Linked DNA regions of Homo sapiens: all the other regions are reported to be linked to region 4. The links are microRNA targets in miRTarBase. Many come from high-throughput screens and were not tested one by one. Region 4 holds a microRNA gene; each other region holds the end of a gene's coding sequence.
Evidence for each region. Region 4 holds the annotated microRNA hsa-miR-216a-3p (UCACAGUGGUCUCUGGGAUUAU, at 2,052-2,073, opposite strand). A microRNA usually pairs through its seed, bases 2 to 8, with sites in the 3' UTR of a target mRNA and lowers its output. Matches are read on the target gene's strand: a 7mer-m8 pairs with bases 2 to 8, a 7mer-A1 pairs with bases 2 to 7 and ends in A, and an 8mer does both.

Region 1: the mRNA of EIF5A2 is a reported target of hsa-miR-216a-3p. Seed matches in the 3' UTR shown: 7mer-A1 at 965-971 and 7mer-A1 at 354-360.
Region 2: the mRNA of MKLN1 is a reported target of hsa-miR-216a-3p. The part of its 3' UTR that is shown has no 7-base or 8-base seed match.
Region 3: the mRNA of SLC46A3 is a reported target of hsa-miR-216a-3p. Seed matches in the 3' UTR shown: 7mer-A1 at 1,176-1,182.
Region 5: miRTarBase lists RNF152 as a target of hsa-miR-216a-3p. The part of its 3' UTR that is shown has no 7-base or 8-base seed match.

The regions. Positions count from the first base shown.
Region 1 is chr3:170,889,634-170,893,758 of GRCh38, forward strand. EIF5A2 (eukaryotic translation initiation factor 5A2) reads right to left here. Exons shown (of 5, transcript NM_020390.6): 5 at 1-3,786. The coding sequence ends at 3,727. Among named protein-coding and RNA genes, the nearest start is that of EIF5A2, 17 kb to the right of the region's middle.
Region 2 is chr7:131,487,238-131,491,362 of GRCh38, reverse strand. MKLN1 (muskelin 1) reads right to left here. Exons shown (of 18, transcript NM_013255.5): 18 at 1-3,756. The coding sequence ends at 3,635. Among named protein-coding and RNA genes, the nearest start is that of PODXL, 67 kb to the left of the region's middle.
Region 3 is chr13:28,697,970-28,702,094 of GRCh38, reverse strand. It overlaps SLC46A3 (solute carrier family 46 member 3), which reads left to right. Exons shown (of 6, transcript NM_181785.4): 6 at 514-2,015. The coding sequence ends at 598. All of the region lies in intron 1 of LOC124903143 (a long non-coding RNA gene), which reads right to left. Among named protein-coding and RNA genes, the nearest start is that of SLC46A3, 19 kb to the left of the region's middle.
Region 4 is chr2:55,986,930-55,991,054 of GRCh38, forward strand. MIR216A (microRNA 216a) reads right to left here and starts at 2,130; the gene lies at 2,021-2,130. All of the region lies in intron 2 of MIR217HG (MIR217 host gene), which reads right to left. The region is part of intron 3 of LOC105374690 (a long non-coding RNA gene); the gene reads left to right.
Region 5 is chr18:61,812,271-61,816,395 of GRCh38, reverse strand. RNF152 (ring finger protein 152) reads left to right here. Exons shown (of 2, transcript NM_173557.3): 2 at 1-4,125. The coding sequence ends at 544. Among named protein-coding and RNA genes, the nearest start is that of LINC01544, 66 kb to the right of the region's middle. RefSeq lists an enhancer at 1-169.

The DNA.
Region 1 (4,125 bases), not on the chromosome of region 4:
GAGCCATATTTTCTCATAGTAAATGCGTTCCTAGTTCATATTACAGAATTCAGTATGTAAACATTTCAGTGTACCCAAAAAAGCATTATGAATTTATCTATTATCCCTAAATATGTTTGGTGAACCTCTACATCAATGCCTGGCTCCAAAACTATCTCTGGGGTCCATGCCAAAGGAATGCTTTCAGATGTATCCTAAGGATAGGATTCTAAGATGAGACTGCCAAAATCTATTCTAAAATGAAAAAAATATGGCAAGATTCCAGTATGGATGCTACTGTTTCCATTTTTTTCTTGACTATTTAGCATGTAGTTTAAGTGTGTTGACATTAAGGATTTTTTTATATGCATGTATCACAGTTATTACAATTTGGGAAAATTCTGCCAATATATTTTCAGGCAATTAGCTTTAAAATAATGAAATTTCAGCTTTTAGCACAAATAGCCCTGAGAACAATGCATTCAAATTACAGCTCAACTAGAAATATTCTAATTGAGAAACCTTAAAGTACAAAAACAAGTTGTGGAAAGTTGTAAATTTAAAAAAAAAAAGTTACCAACAGTTGAGGCACCAACAGACTACAATACTTTTAAGAGTTGGGAGTTTGGAAAAAAGAACTAACATATAAAGTTATGTGCGCACATGTGCACATGCAAATTGCATTGTAATGAAAAATTGTGTCTCCAAATTTTACAGCCTAATCATTTTATTGCAGTATCTCCTATTATAGATATCATGCTCTGATGCAGGAGAGTTTTGGTAATTAACATAAAGCGCTGGTACAGAGACTTGTATCATTAAGGGAAACAGAGTCAAGAGCTTGGTTAGCAACAGTTTCTTCAAGTGACTGAGCCCCTGGAAGGGAGCATGAAAAAAACATCATAATTATGTTTATGATGCAAATGCTAAGTCAAAGTAGCAATGATATGATCTATGTTGTAGCAAATAAGGTATAACAAAGTCTTCACAGTATAAATAAAATGTTCTAAAAAGAAACAAATATTCAACCTGTTAATAAATTGGTGAAATGTATACAGATAAAAATGGCTTATCACTGTACAATGATATCAACATGACAGTCCACATTCTATACATGGTAACTCGTGATTTTTAACATTTGCTACAAAAAAGTACAACAAATATTGGGAATCAACTTTAACATTTCTGATGTCTAAAAAGAATGAAGTCACTTCTGTTCTATGTTAAAAAATACATGTTCCCCGCTTCCTTTTAATATAATTTATAAAGCTTTACTAAATATTTTGTTCTAGAGAAACATCTATTGACTTATGTGAAAATAAAGTCCCATATCTTTAAAATCTATACTTATATATCGAGTATTTACACTTCATATATTACTTAAAATGAAAATATTTATGCATAAATAGCGTTTGCCATTCAAAGTATGAAGATAGAGATGCATTATTATAATTTGTACACCCTTAATTTGTACACAATTGAAAATATATTTATGTGAAATTTTACAAGTTAGGAAGAACAGGGGCATGCTAATTGAGAGTTAATACTGAATCATAACACCAGCATGGTTAAGAGGGGCCATATGAATGAACTGCAAGCAGCACGGATTAATAATTTTCTGGAATTCCTATGAGTTACAATGCCAACCAGTAGCAATTAAGATACACATTACAGAGTACTAAGAAACTAGAGCAGTATGTAGTAGGTACTTAAATAGAATACTGGAAAGAATGTAGCCTAATTTTAATTGTGCTTTAGATGGGCAAAAGCTAAAATGTTGTAGGAAAGACGACTAACTACTACCTCACTATTTCTTGTGCTTTAGAAATTTCCTTTGTATTTCTCTTAAAGTATCTTGCTTCTTCCCCAAATTGGTTTGCCGAGGCTAAGACAATATTTAAAAGTGTGTACAAATTAAGCAACTAAAACTTGGGATCTTCTGTTACTAATGCTATTTCCAGTCACTGATTAGATCAGTTACATCATCATATATGATATACTTTCCTTTAGAAGATAGGAACAAAGGGCTTTTTAGAGGTCAAGGCATGATGGGAGAGGTCTAAGAGCCAGTCTTAGAGAATTAAGGTATTTCTGAGATAGTGATTTTGTTCTATGTTTTGCTCCAATATGATGATTGTCACTGAGTCAAAGGTCCTCACAAACCCTGTAATAATGTCTAAAATTCTGGAAATAATATACATATGACTCAAAAGATGAAATAGAAATGCAGTGGTGTCACCTAAAATACCTTTTAAAATAATTCAGTTTATAGAATTATTTGCTAGTTATAGTTCACACCAGCAACTGAATTAAGTCACACAACAATCAGAAAAAATGCATATACTTAAAATAACTTAACTTAAATAATAATATTCATATAAAGTAATGCTGCTTCCATGATTCACTTTAATTCACTTTAGGAAAAAAAGGACATAAAATTAACAAAAATTCCAAATCAATTTAAGGAATTCTCAGTTTTTGTTTAATAAATACATTAATGTCAAAAAATCTACTTAGAAATGGTTGGAAAGGGGCTGGGTGTGGTGGCTCATGCCTGTAATCCCAGCACTTTGGGAGGCTGAGGCAGGTGGATCACCTGAGGTCAGGAGTTCAAGACCAGCCTAGACAACATGGTGAAACCCCATCTCTACTAAAATACACAAAAAAGTAGCTGGGCGTGGTGGCATGCACCTGTAGTCCCAGCTACTTGGGAGGCTGAGGCAGGAGAATTGCTTGAACTCGGGAGGCAGAGGTTGCAGTGAGCCGAGATTGCACCACTGCACTCCAGCCTGGCTGATGGAGTGAGACTCAGTCTCAAAAAAAAAAAAAAAAAAAAGGAAGTTGGAAAGGAGTATTTACTGATAAATATTACTATTTATTCAACATAGTTGGAAAACAAGCATTGCATAGTATCATGTAAAGCAGATCACTCCCTTTAAACGTTGGGGGCAAAGTTAAAAGCAAAAACAACTGAGAAACAACTTTTCATTTTTATGCTGACTTACAAAGTCCTCACATAAAAACTTATAGATTTAATCAACCCTCTTTGCCACTGTCTTTTGTGTCTTCCTTATAATCTTACTTGCTAACTAACTTTCACCCAACAGTTCAGTGCCCTTCTGCCAACCATAAGAAGGGACTAAAACCACCATATAAGGTTACATCAAGTTTGCCAACAATTTGGTAAATAGTATGACCAAAGTAATCACATGGTTGCATGTGGCCACCAAAATAACTGACAGTTTTTGATAACATGATTTTTGTTTAAGGATTTGTGTTTGCCCTACACAGGCTGAAAGTGCAACAATTCCAATATATAATCAGTTCATTTTATATTAAATCTGTAATTAATGCAGAGCAGTTCAACTTAAATATGGTACTTCAATACCACTTTATGCTACATTGTTTGATTTAAAACCCTGGTTTATCATCTAACTAAAACACAGGAATGATTTGCTCAGACAAATCACATCTGCTGAAGCTATCTTGTTTGTTTCTTGGACTGACATACTGAAAACCACAGGAATATTATAGGAAACATATCTACAAAATTCAAAAAAAATTATACATATTGATAATTTTTTAAAAATTATCAATTGCTTGCAAAACTAACCCAGCACAATCTGAAAACAATTAAAAAAAGAAATGAGGTTGCTTATGAAGGCTATAGCTTTGGTGACAACTTAGAACCAAATTAGATCTGCAGTTGATTCAGACATAAACAGTGTTCATGCCTGATGTTTCCGTTTATTTGCAGGGTTTTATGGCTACAGCATATTCTTCACTCATTGCACACATGACAGACACCTAGAAGGAAAAAAGCAGGCAAAACGTTATTCAGAAGACAATACATATAGAAGATATAATTAGTTCCTCATATATTGTATATTTGTGGATATTTTGTACATATGGACTTCTGAAAGGGGTATTCCAAAACAAGCTACTTTCTTTACAGTTTTCTAAAGCAGAATTTCTCAGAGTGGTTTGTAAGACAACTTCCAGGGAACAGGAAAAATAACTATAAATGTTTGAACACTTACTACCCGTTACATTTCTGAAAGTTGTAACGAAGACAGTAAATCTCCTTCACTCTTTAACATTCCACTAGCATCATTTCTTACCTGTAAGAATAGCTCAGGGCTGGGC
Region 2 (4,125 bases), not on the chromosome of region 4:
AGCCTTCACATCCTAGATCGGGGCTACCTTAGGAATTCAAAACTTGGTGAGAATTCAGGCAAGAATTTCTACAAAGGGATGAGATTGTGGATGAATGTGGAATTTTAAGAAAAGAAGGGTTAGGAAGGGTGTTTTTTTTTTAATAGTTAGATGACTTTATTTAGAATATACATTGCAATGATTCCCTCCCACAGAAATCACTTCAAACCGTAATTCTCAAATACTGTGCAACATTCAACCAGCTAAGGATTTCACGTGACTTTCAGGAAATAAATGACCCACAATTACCCAGTGAATTCCATGTAGTGTTAAGAATAATTGCAGGTAACTTCTTCATGTAATTACCATGAAATTGAGTATAATTTAGAGAATAAAATCAGGAACATACTCCTAATTGCTTTTTTGATCCATTAAGCATCATTCTCAATCTCTCACTAAATGCTTGGGTGCCTCAAACTAGTTTTTGTTTATAGGCTAGATTTTAAAACACTGTTTTATTATAACTCTGTTAATGTATCTCTACATAGCACTTTTAAGGCAGATGTGAAGAGATCAACTGGAATAAGCTGCCAACCATTTATATACAATATAAATATTTTGCCCAAGAATGCAGTTTTACAAGCTTAAATCACTGAGCTCTAAACCCATCAAACTTTTCTATGATAAACCAGTGACTTTTTAATGTATTCTATCAGTTTTTACTTATTAGACATGGACAGGTCTGTTTTCATATAAATGAAAATCAGGTCTAAAAGATGGCCTTGATAAGAGTTAATACTGTCTGTCAGCTTCAGCACAGAGGTAGGCATTTAAGTCTGAATTCCTTTGCTTGAATAAGAGTGATACATTCTTCAATCAATCAAACTGGCCACATGAGGTCTCTGCCATTACCAAAATAAAATGCAAATGCACTTAAGAGGTGTCTTGAAAATCAGATTATTTCTCATGAAGTACAAGCACTGAAAATAATGTTGGATATCTACTTTAATTTCTGGTTGAAAACAATGTATTATACTAGGAAAAAGGATAAATGAGGTTGAAGCTGGAGATAATACAAATGAGAAAACTGTATCCCACTTAATTTATGTGTCTAAAGTGTTAGCCAGGTGTTTCAATTAGGGATTCACCTAGGCTAGAATAATTGTTAGGTAGTAAAGCATATACACTTGGCTATATAAACAATGTACCTAAATACCAAATTCGATTATTTAAATTATAATCTATGCTGGAATTCTTGGAAATACATGTAGCTCCTCACTAAATTGTGACATGTTGTGAGCAACATGTCAATCTTGGTCATGGATATATGAAGCACTACATTCTCTGCAATCATTTCCAGCAGTGCTCCGATTAAAGCCCCACAGTACAGAGTCTGACTTTTCAATTATCTCCTCAGTACATCTATCTCACTTTGGCAAGAGCAAATGGCTCGCTATGATTCAACCCCATTTAAACATGGCGGTGAGCAAAAAATTTCAGAAATGAAGGGGGAAAAATTCTACCTAAATAAAGTGAGGGAAGATGAAATTAAAACAAACATGTTTTCCAAAAAGACTAGTAGGGAAACATTTAGGGAAAAACAAAAATAAAATTACTGAGGTCAAGAACTTAGTTTCCTCCAAATAACATTTAAGGAACTGATGAAAAAAATTACAAAGCACTGTAAAAATAAATGGTGGAGGGCAGCAGAATTTCACTTGCTTAATCTTTTTAAAGTGCCAGAATTCACACTAAGCAAAACTAGAGCTTTTAAATTTAGGAAGTCTTATTTAGCAAGCTCAAGTTCTTCCTTGTCAATCTTCTGATTTGCACCTGTCTCCACAAAAGATTTAACAGGCTATATTAGTGATATTAACATTTTATGTTCTTGTGTCACTCAGGGGAATCGTTTTATGAAACTGTTGAAGTATGTAAGCAAACTGTATTTACTTGACTGGATAGCCACTTGGTTATTCTGCAGCTACACAAGTTGGTACTTGCTGAATTATATAGCATACCTTTCACAAGTAAAGGTACAGATCAAATTGCTTAAGAAATCACTGTTGACTGCTTTGGGATGCTAGGAAAGCCAAGGAGCCCATGATTCAAGCCTAGAACTAGCAAAAATATATTTCTATCCATCCCCAAAATAAGTAAAACCATGTACTAAAGACAGAATAAAGTGGGACCTCAATGTTTCATTCCTATACATGGTACTTTTTGAAAGTGCAGGTTAATTTCTTCTTTGGTGAGGCCTAATCTTGCTACTCAGGGACATACTTGATTCCATAAAGCTATTCACTCTTAAGAGCCACTGGATCGACCGACACTTCTTAATATGAATCTGCTTTAGCATGGTGGCAGTCAGCTTCATACAACATGCTTTTTGAGCAAATGTAAGCACTAGCCAGATGTAGGTTTCCCACATTGCATTCCACAGCACATCATCAGAAGACATGTACCTCTATCTCTCACACAAAAAATTTGACCCATGGAAAAGTCCATCTGCCATACCTTGTTTTTTAATGAAAAAATATCTGAACCATTCACAAAGTCTGGTCTATGTGCTTAATGAAATGCCTGTCAGTTGTATACCACTGGACAACCACAAACCATTTCTCTTCAAAATAACAATATCCACAAGCAGATATAGAGAGACAATGTGTATAAAAATAAATGAAAGCAAAGCTCTGGAAACTCAGCCTCCTCTCTCAAATGAAAATACTACAGAGATAGCACAAGATAAACGGGAGCCCTGGTTCTGCAGAGCTCTTCTGGACGAAAGAGTCATTTTCTCCTAAAATTGCTATTAAGATATTATTCACTACTAGATCCCTCCTGCTGGTCACTTTTAGAATGGCTCTTAAAAAGGTTCTGAACTATTGTCTCCTCAGTTTAAGGTTTCTGTGACTCAAAGTCAGATGCTATTGTAATATCTACTATAAAATATATCATTATAGAAATATTATATACCAATCTCAGATAGGTGCTTGGGTCAATCTCAGGTTTCATTTTTAGTTCTATGGCCAAGAGTGCAAACTTGAGACCTCAGTTCTGCCTACTGTTTAATGTAACACAAGACAAGTCAATACAGACACAGATATCACCTTAACATACATCAACTGTCCTAGAGAACTATACACTTGTTAAGAATGAAGTAAAGAGGTGAACAAGTGACACCATTTACACGCAGTTGTGTGATGGGAGGCAAAGTGAAATAGGAAGGGAAAAGGCAGGCCAAATGACCAACAGCAACAACATTCAAAATACTTGTAGTGCTGAATCTGTTAATAGTGCTTATTTCCCCCAATTAAAAAAAAAAGAAATAAAAATCTGAAAAGGGTAAACTGCCTAATTTTTCTTTTATACTCATTAATTCTTAAAAGATAAAGTAAGAAAAAATATATATATATATATATTTAACTGGAAAGTATACCAATTTCACTTTATTAGCCTAATTTAGGAATAGGATGAGGAGAGCGGGGTTGAGGTCAGGCATGAAGGAAGAGGGTAAAAACTTGTGATGGTTAAGATCCCTTCAGAACTCTGGTGCAGTCCTCAATCACTGCAGCTTTACTGTCAGTCAGTGGAGCTGCAATCCAAAAGACGGAAAATCGACTCCTGTTTTCCATTTCTGTGTCCAGTGACTCTTCAGTTACAGTGTGATGAGGTCTACCAGGTTGCCTTTAGGAGGAGTCATGCTGTCAGGAAAGAAATTTACTAAGGTGTCAAAGAGCTGAGTTCTTTGAGCATAGGTGTGATCCACATCAGAAAAGCCTGGTGAAGAAGATACAAAGAAACATCCATTGTGTTTAAAACATGTAACAGAAAAACTAGTTGAGACCAGCAGCAATGTATTTTATAATGGAGAAATCAAATCAGGCTTCAAAACCAGGCAGACACTACTGATCTGACCCCAGTTCTACTACCTGGCTGTGGTGTGATCTTAGATAAATTAGTCAGACTTTCTGGCTTTCAGACTTTGCTTCCTCAGCTGTAAGTATGTGATAATCCTGTTTACTTCATACAGTTATTGTGCAGATTAAATGTAGTTACATGAAAAGCGTCTAGCAGAAGGACTGGCACTTTAGTTACAAATAATACTGATCTCTCTTTTTTTCCTTATTAGGTCTTTTCTCTGCTGGT
Region 3 (4,125 bases), not on the chromosome of region 4:
TAGAATAATAGGTAATTCTAATTTTAGTCTTCACATGTTTATAAATTCTGTTATAACAGATAGATAAAAGGCAGTTGTCCTTTTAATAATAAGGTAAAGTAGATGGGCTTCTGAGCTTTTTTTTTAACCTTACACTGCTCAATATTTTAAAAATCAAAATTACATACTGTCTTACCTCCAAATGTCCAAGCTTCTGAGCTTCAGCTATAGCTATTGAACAGGAACTTCAGTAATAGCTTTAGTTATAACTAGTTTATGTGGACTACACAGAGTTAACCATGGGACAGATGGGATACCTTAGGGGTCTAGAAGAGAAAAAAAATCATGCAGTTTTAAAATTATTTTAAGAACACCATGCATGAGTCAGCTGGATTCAAAATGCCAGGATACTCCTCCTAATAATCTGCATAATTTATTAAAAGCTATGTAACTGGGAAAAAAAGTTGGAAAACAGATTACTTATTTATGTATTGTCTTAATCTCAACTTTAAAATGTCTTGTTTCCTTTTATAGTGTTGTCAAGTGTACCAGCTGGAATGAGGGAAGCTATGAACTTCTTATACAAGAAGAATCCAGTGAAGATGCTTCAGACAGGTGACTGTGATTTAAACAAACAAAAAAAATCTATGAATGCACATATCATATACCATGACTTCTGAAGACTATAAATGAATTCCACAATCAGTGCTTCACTGAGAACCAATTTTACCTATCTTTTCTTCTAAACTGAACAGTCAGAGAGACAGCTCCTGGCTTTAGCTTCTTGTGGTACCACGCACTTTGAGCACTTTGTGCGTATCATGCAATATACTTGCAATACACAGAACAAATTTCAAATACGCCTCACTTTTAGACTTAGAAGAGAAACATTAAAACTTAAGGGTGTAAGGAGGGATCAAGAAACTTGATAAGGTCAAAAGCAATAATCTCTCTGACATATTCCAGGCTCTTACACTGAGACCAAAGAGAAATCTTTACCTCAGTTTCTTCATCAGCAGAATGGGTTTCTGGCCTCTCTCAGGGATAATTTTGAAGGCATAATGAAAATTATGATGAATCACTCATTGGTAGGAAAATAATGATATAAGTTTCAAATATGTATGATTTTACCTATACTTGGTAATGCTTTATTTTATAGAGCCTGTTAAGCTGCTATTGATAGTCGGAGCTTATATACTGTGACTTCTGAAGACTATACATGAATTCCACAATCAGTGCTTTGTTGATACAAAATCCTTAAAAGGGAGGCACTTTAAAGAATATGTATTTTTCACTTTTCTTAATATGTTTCATCGGTGACAGGCATGATAATATTTCTATATGTAATGGGTAATTGGGAAAAAATAGATGATAAATAAAATTGCTCTAAAGAAGTTAAAAAACTGAATGAACAGCTAATACTGGTATAAAGTAACTAATGTTTGGAGCCAACATTTGTTCCTTGTGTCAGCAAAAGGATATTCACATTCCATGATCCCTGGCTGAGAATTCTGCCTCTAGTCTTTCTTACCCAGCTGTTGTCTATCCTTGTTCAATTATAAATACTGCTAAGGGCATTTTTAAAATACGATCTTGTACTCCTTAAATTTGAATCCGTCAACACGGTCACTCATAGGAAAATGATCAAACAAGCAAGCCAGTCATGATTTGACTCCTTCCCATCTCATTTCTTACTGCCTTACGCTCATCCTGAGGTCCACCTTGGTCTCTAAAAACACCATGTGTTCTCATGCCTCCATGTCTTTTCACACACTGTTCCATTTGCTCTTCCTCCCACATTACATTGAAACTTTCAAGCCTCAGTCGAAACATTGCTTCTTCTGGATAGCAGCCTTCTTGACATCCCTCCTCACTCCCCAGTCCCTACAGGGCTTCCATAGCTCTTTGTGTGCACTTCGATCCCAGCATTTTCCATCGACTTGTAATTGTTTCTGCTACCTGACAATCATCGCCTTGAGTACTGGGACAACCTTTGATTACTCATTATATCCTCAATAAATATTTGTTGAACTAAACTAAATGACTACAAAATTTTATTTTTACTTGTAAAAATCATTTAGAGCTATATATTTAATGCCTTATGAGAGTAACCACTGTTATCATGCCAATCATTAAGCCAGCCTTGCAAACAAATTGAAAAATATGCCAGTTTATACACTTTTAAAACTGATTTACAGTATTTTCATAGGTCCTTTAATACCTCCCATTTTCGAAGTTACCATAAATAATAACACAAATGCCCTAACGTGCAACTAAATGAGTAACTTCATTGTAATCTCTTGAAAGTAGATACAATCTTCTGTTTTATAGTATTGCTTAGGGCTTTAAGAAAATCAATGATTGCTTGACTAGTGAATAGCACTCATAATTTAATATACTAGAAATCCTTATTTCCAAGATCATTCCTTTTAGGTTTAGCTAGTATCTTCTGGGCTTGGAGCCCGTGTAATAACTAATTCTCAGATTGACTGATACATTTTTGTTTTCCTTCCTGTCCAAGGTTCTTCCCAAACCAAAACAAAAAGCATCTTACAGTTTATAAAGTAGATATTCATTCTCCTCATTTTACAGAAGAGGAAGATAAGTCTCACAGAGATTTGGCTGGACCGTGGTTATTCAGTGCCTATCAGTATGACACATGAATGGACTTCACCCTACTGAATGAAGTCCAGCTACTTCATAGCTAGGGTTTGCAGTAATAGATTATAAACCCCAAAGCAAGAATTGTACAGGGGTAGCATGATGTACTCATCAAAAACAAATTAACAAAAAACTGTACCCAACTAACTGCCTATAATTATTATCTTTTTTGAGCTTAGACAAGATGGTCTATAAACTCTCTTCCAGCTCAACATTCCATGATTTTACACATCTCATCTGAACTGAAGAGGTACTGTGTAATACAGTTGAAGGGTTAACAGATGATTACTTGAGCAAAAACTCTATTTGAGATGTAGCAAGTATATCAGGAGATTAGATTGAGGTGGCCAAGGGCAAAAATGTAGCACAAATGAACTTAGCCATCTCCAAAGTGTCTAGCCTAAGAGACAATTAGTAAATGTGGTGCTGAAGAGACTAGAGAACCATGCAAGCTGATGGGATGGGGAACTATAGACTCAAAACAGAAATGAAAAAAAAAAAAATCTAATTTCCCATCATGTAACCCGATTATCTGAAGAAAGAATGTTAATGGAAGGACTGGTCTTTATGGAGCCCAGATAAAGAGAAACCAGAGAGGAAAAAACATGTTCCATGTTATCCAGCAGTGTACAAAGGGGGTTAGATTACCATATCTACTAGAAATGAAGATTCTCATCATTACAGAGGACTAGTCAATGGGATTGTCCACAGCCTGCATTGCACGGCCTCATACATCTAAATCCCTTTTCTCCACTTCCATACTCACTAGATAATTGTGTCCAGAGTTGGTTCCTTCTGGTGGGTTGGTGGTCTCACTGCCTTCAAGAATGAGGCCACGGACCTTCACTGTGTTACAGCTCTTAAAGATGGCATGGACCCAAGGAGTGAGCAGCAGCAAGATTTATTGTGAAGAGCGAAAGAATAAAGCTCCCACAGCGTGGAGAGTGACCTGAGGGGGTTGTGGCTGCTGGCTTGGGGGTGGCCAGCTTTTATTCCCTTATTTGTCCCTGCCCATGTCCTGCTGATTGGTCCATTTTACAGAGTGCTGATTGGTCCATTTTACAAACCTCTAGCTAGCTGCAGAGCACAGATGGTGCGTTTTCACAGAGCACCGATTGGTGCATTTTACAATACTCTTGTAAGACCGAAAAGTTCTCCAAGTCCCCACCCGACCCAGAAAGTCCAGCTGGCTTCACCTCTCATAATCTTCTAATTACTCATTCAATGCCCAAGAATCTTGACAATAGAATAGCATGGCCTGGGTTCAGTATTCTTTTAAAGAAATCCCTGCATATGAGAACCATCTGAAGAATTTAAAAATAAAAATAAAATAATTAATTAGTAAAAATAAAAATCCTTGGCCTCATGTACTAGAGATTCTGCTTCAGTAGCTCTGCAGTGAGGTCTTGGAATGTATTTCTAAAACCTCCCCAGGTGACTGATACACATCCAGACCTGGAAACTACTGCCCTAGATGACTGATTT
Region 4 (4,125 bases):
CCTATCCTGTGGTCTTACATTCCTAAAGTTAAATGACAAGGAAGTTATTTGCAGTCCACAATAACTATTTTTCTTTAAAGTTTATACATGGTTAGATTCTAAGAAAAGTCTATTAAACTGTGTTACTGGTAAATAAGTCATGCCACTTCTTTAATTAAAACTCTCCAATTGCTTGTGGAGTCCCTCACACTAAAACCCCAAATTCTTACCATAGTCTACCTAGCTATACCCTCTAATCCTCTCCTTCCAGTTTTTCTCACTGCACTCCAACCACAGCTTCCCTGTTGAGCTCAAATACAGTGATTCTCACCTTTGGCTGCACATTACAATCCCCTGGGTGCCTCTTAAACAGAGATGCCCAGATCCCATCCCAGGCATTCTGATTTATCAGTGGCACAGCCCTTGATATTGACATTTTCAAAAGCTCCCTGTGCCTCTATGTGCAGAGAGCACTGGGAACATCTGGAGACTGCAAGAGTGCACTGAGTGTACACACAAGCAAGGCAACAAGCATGGTTCCTGATGCATCATATGTACTCAGCTCTTCAAAAAATATTTCCTGCTCTGTTTAATTACATTTATCTTCTTCCCTTTTTGAAAAATGGTCACCAAAAATTGGAATTGGGAATTTTTTCATGTTTGAAAAAATGATTATTTCAACTAGCAGGAGGATACAGACAACATTTAGAAAGTTTCAGCAGCAGCTTAAAAGAGCCCTTAATGAGTCCTGAAAATTAATACGAAGCCCTCTCCTTACCAGAGGTAAGTTATTTCCTGGCTTATGGTTCAGTATTTGTGCTATTAGTATGTGAATAACTAGTTCTCAAACTTACCTCCTACTGCTCAACATCAATTTCTGGCAAGGAAATCTAATAGGTCATACTAATGTGCCTTGATACAGAAATGTAATTTTTTTTTTTTTTTTTTTTGAGACAGAGTCTCGCTCTGTCGCCCAGGTTGGAGTGCAGTGGCGCAATCTTGGCTCACTGCAACCTCCGCCTCCTGAGTTCACTCCATTCTCCTGCCTTAGCCTCCTGAGTAGCTGGGACTACAGGTGCCCGCCACCATGCCCAGCTAATTTTTTGTATTTTTAGTAGAGACAGGGTTTCACCGTGTTAGCCACGATGGTCTCGATCCCCTGACCTCATGATCCGCCTGCCTCAGCCTCCCAAAGTGCTGGGATTACAGGCGTAAGCCACTGCGCCCGGCCCAGAAATGTAATTTAATCAAACTGAGATATACAGACTTCTCTTTCTGAGGATACCTGAGGGGATATGTGCCAGTCAAGACCTTGGAAATAGCATTTTAATAATTTTTGTTGTTAAAGTTATCCCACATTTAATTATAAATTTGGTTCATCTGATTTGTTTTGTGTTACTGGGTGAATGAGGAAGATAACTGGCCTTGATTTTTCACCCTGAAGAATTACATTTGTTCTTATTCTTTTTATGGAAAAGGATTATCTGTTTCCAGGGATCACCGAGAATTAGAGTTGGGTACAGCTCAAAAGTTTCATGGCAACCTCAGCCTAAGCCATAGTTGATTCTAAATTTCAATATTATTTAGGGCAGATGAATGTGAAACACTTACAGAAGGAATGAGGAAGGGCGATTAAATGTGATAATCTGGGGAGTTGAAGTTTGAGGAGGGCCTGGCAGGAGATCGTCCTCTTTTAGACTGTTTGGAATTTGATGGAGTAGCACCCACAAAGAGAGTGGGAGGAGCTTTCAGAGGGAAAATATTTTGGGTTCAGCTTCTAACACCCAAACTCCCTTGGCTGCAATTTTTTAAAAAACCAAGTAGCACTGAAGGAGCGCAGTAAGTAGCAAGCGAATCCAATAAAGGCAAATTAATTCCCAAGGCTGGTTTCCTTTCCAGCACAACAGCACTTTAGAAAAAGACTTTACTAAGATTAAAAGAGGTTGAGCATGAAACAGTAACCATCGAAACTTTTCCCCCCGTCTTGGTCATGAAATAGAAATTTGGTGTTTAATTTTGGTTGCCATGCAAGTCTTTTGATTCGTGAGGGCTAGGAAATTGCTCTGTTTAGCATAATCCCAGAGACCACTGTGAGGGATTGTATGAACATCTCACAGTTGCCAGCTGAGATTAAGCCAACTCACAGCCATCCGTGTTAGACCTGCAAGAGAAAGTGTATGAGCAGAGGCACGTGGCTGCCTCAGGTGGAAGCACATCTTCATACATCGAGTGCACCAGCAGAAGCCCTGATGTACCCCTCTGCATTTTTCTTGAGGCGACATTATCAAGCTACTCCTCTTGCTGAATTCACAGATTTCTGGCATATGCTATATTGCATGTAATGTCATAAAAGTATAATCTTTGCATTTAGAAAGGATTTACTCTAATCCATATATAGTAAGAAACAGCCAAGTAGGAGTACAGGTGAATGTAAAACCAATCACTAAAAATGATTTTTTAAACAAGCTTTATAGAGAACTTGGAAACATCAAAGCCAAACACTCTAAAATTTGTCCTCAGACAAGAAAACCAGCAATTACGTTGAAAAAGTAATGACCGTATACTCACCAAATGGCCAGATGTGTCAATAGCGGTGGCTATTACCTTTCATAGATGGTGGTATGTCCTCCCCTCTTGCCCACATCACTGTCATGGCTAAGTGAGACTGAGCCATGATCTAAGCCCCTCAGTCCACTGGGTGGGGCTAATCAATGGTAAGAATAATGATTAAGAACGGAAGGAAGAGGAAACGCCCTCAGAGTTTCCCCACCATCTGCCGTGGATGGCATCTCAACTTGAGTGAGTGTAAGAAGCACATAGGAAACTTGTTACAAATGTAGATCCCCAGGACCTACCTCTATATTTTGATTCAGTAGGTCTGGTTTTGGTGGCTGCGATTTGCACTTCGGTGGAGATTTTCCACTGCCTTTCTCCAGCTTCACTTCATACTAGACCATTTCTTCCTCTACATTGTAGACTCCAGCTCTAACAAGTTCTGAGAATCCAATGAGCTGTGTTTGCCCATACTTGGAATTATTTCTTCTTTCTCTCTCCCTCCTCTCTCTCTCTTTCACACACACACACACACACACACACACACACACCCCCTTGTGTGACAGTCACACATTGAAAACTATCACACACTGCCTTCTCTCCCCAGTCTCCCTTTTTTGGCACCTGTAATACACAATGGTGTTTTCTCACTCACATGCTTTCTCCTTCATTGACTGCAAACTTCCAAGTGTTGGCACTGTGCTTATTCATCTCTATATCCTCAACTATACTATTCTCAGTTTAGCATCTGATGTTTAATAAGTGCTCAAAAAAATTTTGTCAAACTAAATCAAATGTTTGTTGAAGCAAAGAATTATGGATTTCAGCTCATAACTTGTCCTTTAATAATTGAGACTTGACACAATTAAGAGAGTGGTAATTTACAGAGTTAGAAAAGTGGCTTTTCGTTTTAAAAGTCAGGTAAATATAAAGTTACAAAACAATTGAGAAAGAACAATTGAATATAATCTTGTGCCTCATATGGACTCCTAAGTACAAAGCTACTTTTGTAAAATAAGAATGTCTCATCATTAGGATTTAACTTTTTAAATATTGTTCTAAGTTTATTTTCTGGAGTCAAATTGCTCAGGATTAAAAATAAGCAGATTTTATCTTAATCAAAAAACAAGGGCTTCTCAGAGCAACATGAATGACGTTCAGTTTTTTCTTTTCTCTTAATCTTATATTTGATTTTCCTTTCTCTCTAGAAAGTTTAATAGTGAAAAGTTACCATAGAGAAGTGACAGGAGTATGTAGTTCTTCTTCCCTCTGCTAGAAAACATTAAGAAAAGATCATAAATGGGAACATCATATGCTGATGTGGAAGATGAGACAGCTTTTTATTAATCTTAAGTTGTCATGTCCACAACTGCACAGGGAGGTGGGCTCTCAATGGAAGCAAAGACATATACGTTTCTGCCTTGCCTACCTTAGTGGGTTGCTGTGATGGGCATTTAAAAAAGAAAAAGGAAGAAACTGATACAAAGTTGTTTTGGCAACAAAGCTATATTAATGTGGATAGATAGTCCACAGGCCAGATAAACTGAAATACAGTAGCAAAGTATCAAGGAGTAAGCTGTTTCTAACACTATC
Region 5 (4,125 bases), not on the chromosome of region 4:
CAGGCCCAAGTTGCTGGACTGCAAGCACACCTGCTGTTCAGTGTGCCTGCAGCAGATGAGGACCAGCCAGAAGGATGTGCGGTGCCCCTGGTGCCGCGGTGTCACCAAGCTGCCTCCCGGCTTCTCCGTGTCGCAGCTCCCGGACGACCCGGAGGTCCTGGCTGTCATCGCCATTCCACACACTTCCGAACACACCCCGGTCTTCATCAAACTTCCCAGCAATGGGTGCTACATGCTGCCCCTGCCCATCTCCAAGGAGCGTGCGCTGCTGCCCGGAGACATGGGCTGCCGCCTGCTGCCCGGGAGCCAGCAGAAGTCCGTCACCGTGGTGACCATCCCTGCTGAACAGCAGCCTCTGCAAGGTGGGGCTCCCCAGGAGGCGGTGGAGGAGGAGCAGGACAGGCGGGGCGTGGTGAAAAGCTCCACCTGGTCGGGGGTGTGCACTGTCATCTTGGTGGCTTGCGTCTTGGTCTTCCTCCTCGGCATCGTGCTTCACAACATGTCTTGCATTTCTAAGCGCTTCACTGTGATATCCTGTGGCTGAAGAGGGCTGCAGGGAAGTCTCTTGTGGGTGCCAACTTAGGGGTTGAGCAGGTTGATGATGAGATCCCAGTGAGAAGATGGGGGGCAACACTGACCATTTGGTGCTGAGCGCTGGCCTCTGGGTTGCCTCTTGATTACCCCAAGACAGACACAAAGGGCAGAAGGTGCGGTCTCAACAAGATACCAGGTGAATTGTTCTGAGTGTTGATGGCAACAGCTTGGAAGATGATTGCATGCATCCTCATAATCATGTATTCAATGGACTGTAATTTATGATTTTTCAAAATCATGTTACAAGATAGACATATTCTACTTAGACGTTAAACTGTACAAGTGCGTACAATGTGACCTTCTCTAAATGCGGTAGATTCAAACAAAGATGCTCTGTAGACAAGTAGAATTAAACCTGCGAATCCGTGTAAAAATTCAGTGAAGACATGCACTGCTGGCTTCTTTATTTTTTTTTTCTTTTTATTGAAACCCAGTCTTCATTTAGTTGCTAAGGCTTTTAATACATTTTGAATGGCACCAAAACAAAATAAGTCAAAATGGACAGTCATTTTATTTGGAGGAAATATTTGAACAAGTGTCTCCAATGTGTTGTGTTTTGTCATGAACCTTCATTTTCTTCACTTGTAATTAGAGCTTGCTACGTGTTTATGGAACTGAAAGCTCAACAGGGGAGCAATAAACCGAGAAATCATGAGAAATGTCTAATCCCATGGGAAAACCTGTATGCCGATTTTCCTCAAGCCATCTCACAAAATAAGAATTTCAAATGTAAATATTGTGTATTTGTGTGTGTATGTGTGTGTGTCTAATTTGATTTACCTCAGGTGTTTGAGTCTTTGCTGAAGAATCCTGGGATGAAGACTTCATTGGGCATGAATGAGTCAAGTCTCTGAAGCGGTGGCCACTTCTTGGACATCTTGACCCAGCGAGTGGTCTCCTACACGTCACCTGCAACACTCGCTCCTCTTCTGTGTATTTAAGTCCTGCATTTTGTAAGAGGCAAATGGAGAGTAACAGAAGAGTGTCTTTTCTCCTGGTTTTGGAGTCTTGCACTGGCCATGAGTGTTGTGACTGATGGTCAACCCAGGCGGGCATTTTAATAAATGGCCTGTGATTCTTTTTTGAAAGATGCTCTTCCACAAGAGTTAAGCCAGTTAGAATTCCTGTTTCCTCTTGTTGATATGAGAGAAGATCTCCTGTATTTTAACACGTTTTTACCAAGAAAGGTGGCAAGGTAAACTAACAGCTCAAATTCCCAATATAAGTGGACCAGTTCCTCATAAACTGTCAAATGTTCTTAAATGTGTAATGATCTATAGATGCTCATGAAGAAAGATCTGCTACAAGTACGTGATAAATTCCTATCCCTGGGTGCATGTGCATTCAGAAATAGCTGTGAGCTTTACAGCTCTCATCTAACTTCTTTTATGGAATTCATGAAGCAAGTGGTATGTGACAAGGACTCCACTTATAAATATAACTGTTTTTATGTTCCACTGAATCCCTGAAAATGGTGAGGAGGGTGGGGGGAAGTGAAGGAAAGACAAGCAGGGCTAATTCCAAAAAGCAAGGCTAGAAAATAGCCCTGTGAGGTCAAGACAATTTAATTTATTTACATGCTGTCTGTTATCTTCAAGCAGCACAAAATATGCATATAAAAGTGATGGAATTAATGTGAAATAAAACAAAAATATAATGGCTAGAATACAAAGCTAATACTGCTAATTGGCATGAGAATTCAACATAAAATTGTGAGCTCTGATTTTTCAAATTGATCATAAAACCTTTAGGAAATGTATTTGAAAGCTCAAAATAGAAATTAGGTTAAAATGCCATTTTATTGTGTAAGCTCTTGGGCATTATACAACAAATAATCTAGGATTTATTTGGTATTAATAATTTAGGTGTCATATTAGCTGAATACTATCCTCTATTACATAACATAATATACTGTTGGGTTAGTGTCAATTTCTCAAACTCTCCCAGGCTGCCATAATGCATGTCTGACCTAATTTCTATTTCTCTTGGAGGAAAATACACACACACACACACCACAGAAGTGTTGCATTAAGAATGCTACATTTCGAATAGACTTTGCCCTTGCAATTTTAAGCTATGCCATATTCAGATTAATTTTGTGAGTGATATCTGCATATGTTTCTGTACAGTGTGAAATGACTGACCCTGTAGTATAGTACGTGATAGAGTTCTACTTGTTAAAGTAGGTTAGATATAGACACTAATGTGTGTGATGATAGTGTCCTGTGTTTCTTAGTGCAAATCTGTAGAGTAAAAATGTCCATAGAACTTTTACTTAAAAACAATCCCATGCTAGAGTTGCCATTAAGCAGTGCAAAATTAATCGGCTGTATGGTAGATTCTTGACCTTAAATTTAACAACAACAACCAAAATCAGATTTTTTTTGTGAGTCTTACTGACCTAAGAAACATTGTTTAAATTGTTTAAATGGATCTGCTTGCAGTTATTTGTGTACCTGTTTGTTGGGGTGTGCATTCTTGTGTATGTGTGTGTGTGTGTGTGTGTGTGTGTGTGTGTGTGTGAGAGAGAGAGAGAGAGAGAGAATCTCAGTCTCCCAGATAGAATTTTATAGGCTTAATGATGTTTTAATGTTGCTTGGCATCCCATTGCTCTGGCCTCTTCTGGCATTTACCAATGACCCTTAACAAACACATCTACCCATGTGACCAAAGTCCACTGACACAAGAGGCCAGGATTCATACTTGCACATTAATGAAAAGTCACAACTGGAAAGCACAGAAAGAGCTGAAAGCAGCCTCCGGTGGCTTCATTTTGTAGATGAGTCCGTTTTGTAATTCTGCAGAAAGGGGGGGATATGAACTTCGCACTGCAGTGTCTTCTTGCTCCATCCTAGGTCTGTCTATATCTCTATCTGGCTATGATCCTTTCTAGGGTTGATGAATACCCTTTACTGAGTCAACTATTGCTTTAAAGAATTTTTTTTGTAGGTTTATGTACTCATTTTAGTTAGCATCTACCTCTCTGGGAAAATGAAAGGAGGGTTGACTTAGGGATGAGTATAGATGTTGAAAGACAACTATCAAACCATGTGGTTTGAATTTTTAAAATTGTAAAACATTGGTGTCCAAACCTCCCACCCCACTTGTATGTAAAGGACAGTGAGTGTTGTATAAATAGTAAACTATAAGAAGCATGAATTTTCATCTTTATTAATGATCTTGAAATAAGGAAGAGAATGCTTAATATGTTAAGTAGAGCCAAGAATGCTACTAAGAAGCATTGTCTTTGGAAAAATTTTGTATAATGACTTGGGGCATAAGTTGTGATGAAAAGGCAACTTGGTTTTTGGTTCCAGTCATACTTAATGATCAGAAAGCTCTAAGATGTTTTCTTTAAAAATAGAATTAAGTTTAATTTTTTGCATGGCTTACAGATTGGGTCCCTTGAAGGTTAAACCATGTGATGGTATAACCTGTGAGATCTTCTAGATTGGCACTGTTCAATAGGGCTTTCTGTGATGATGGAAATGCTCGAAAACCTGTGCCGTCTGGTACGGTAGCCACCAGGCA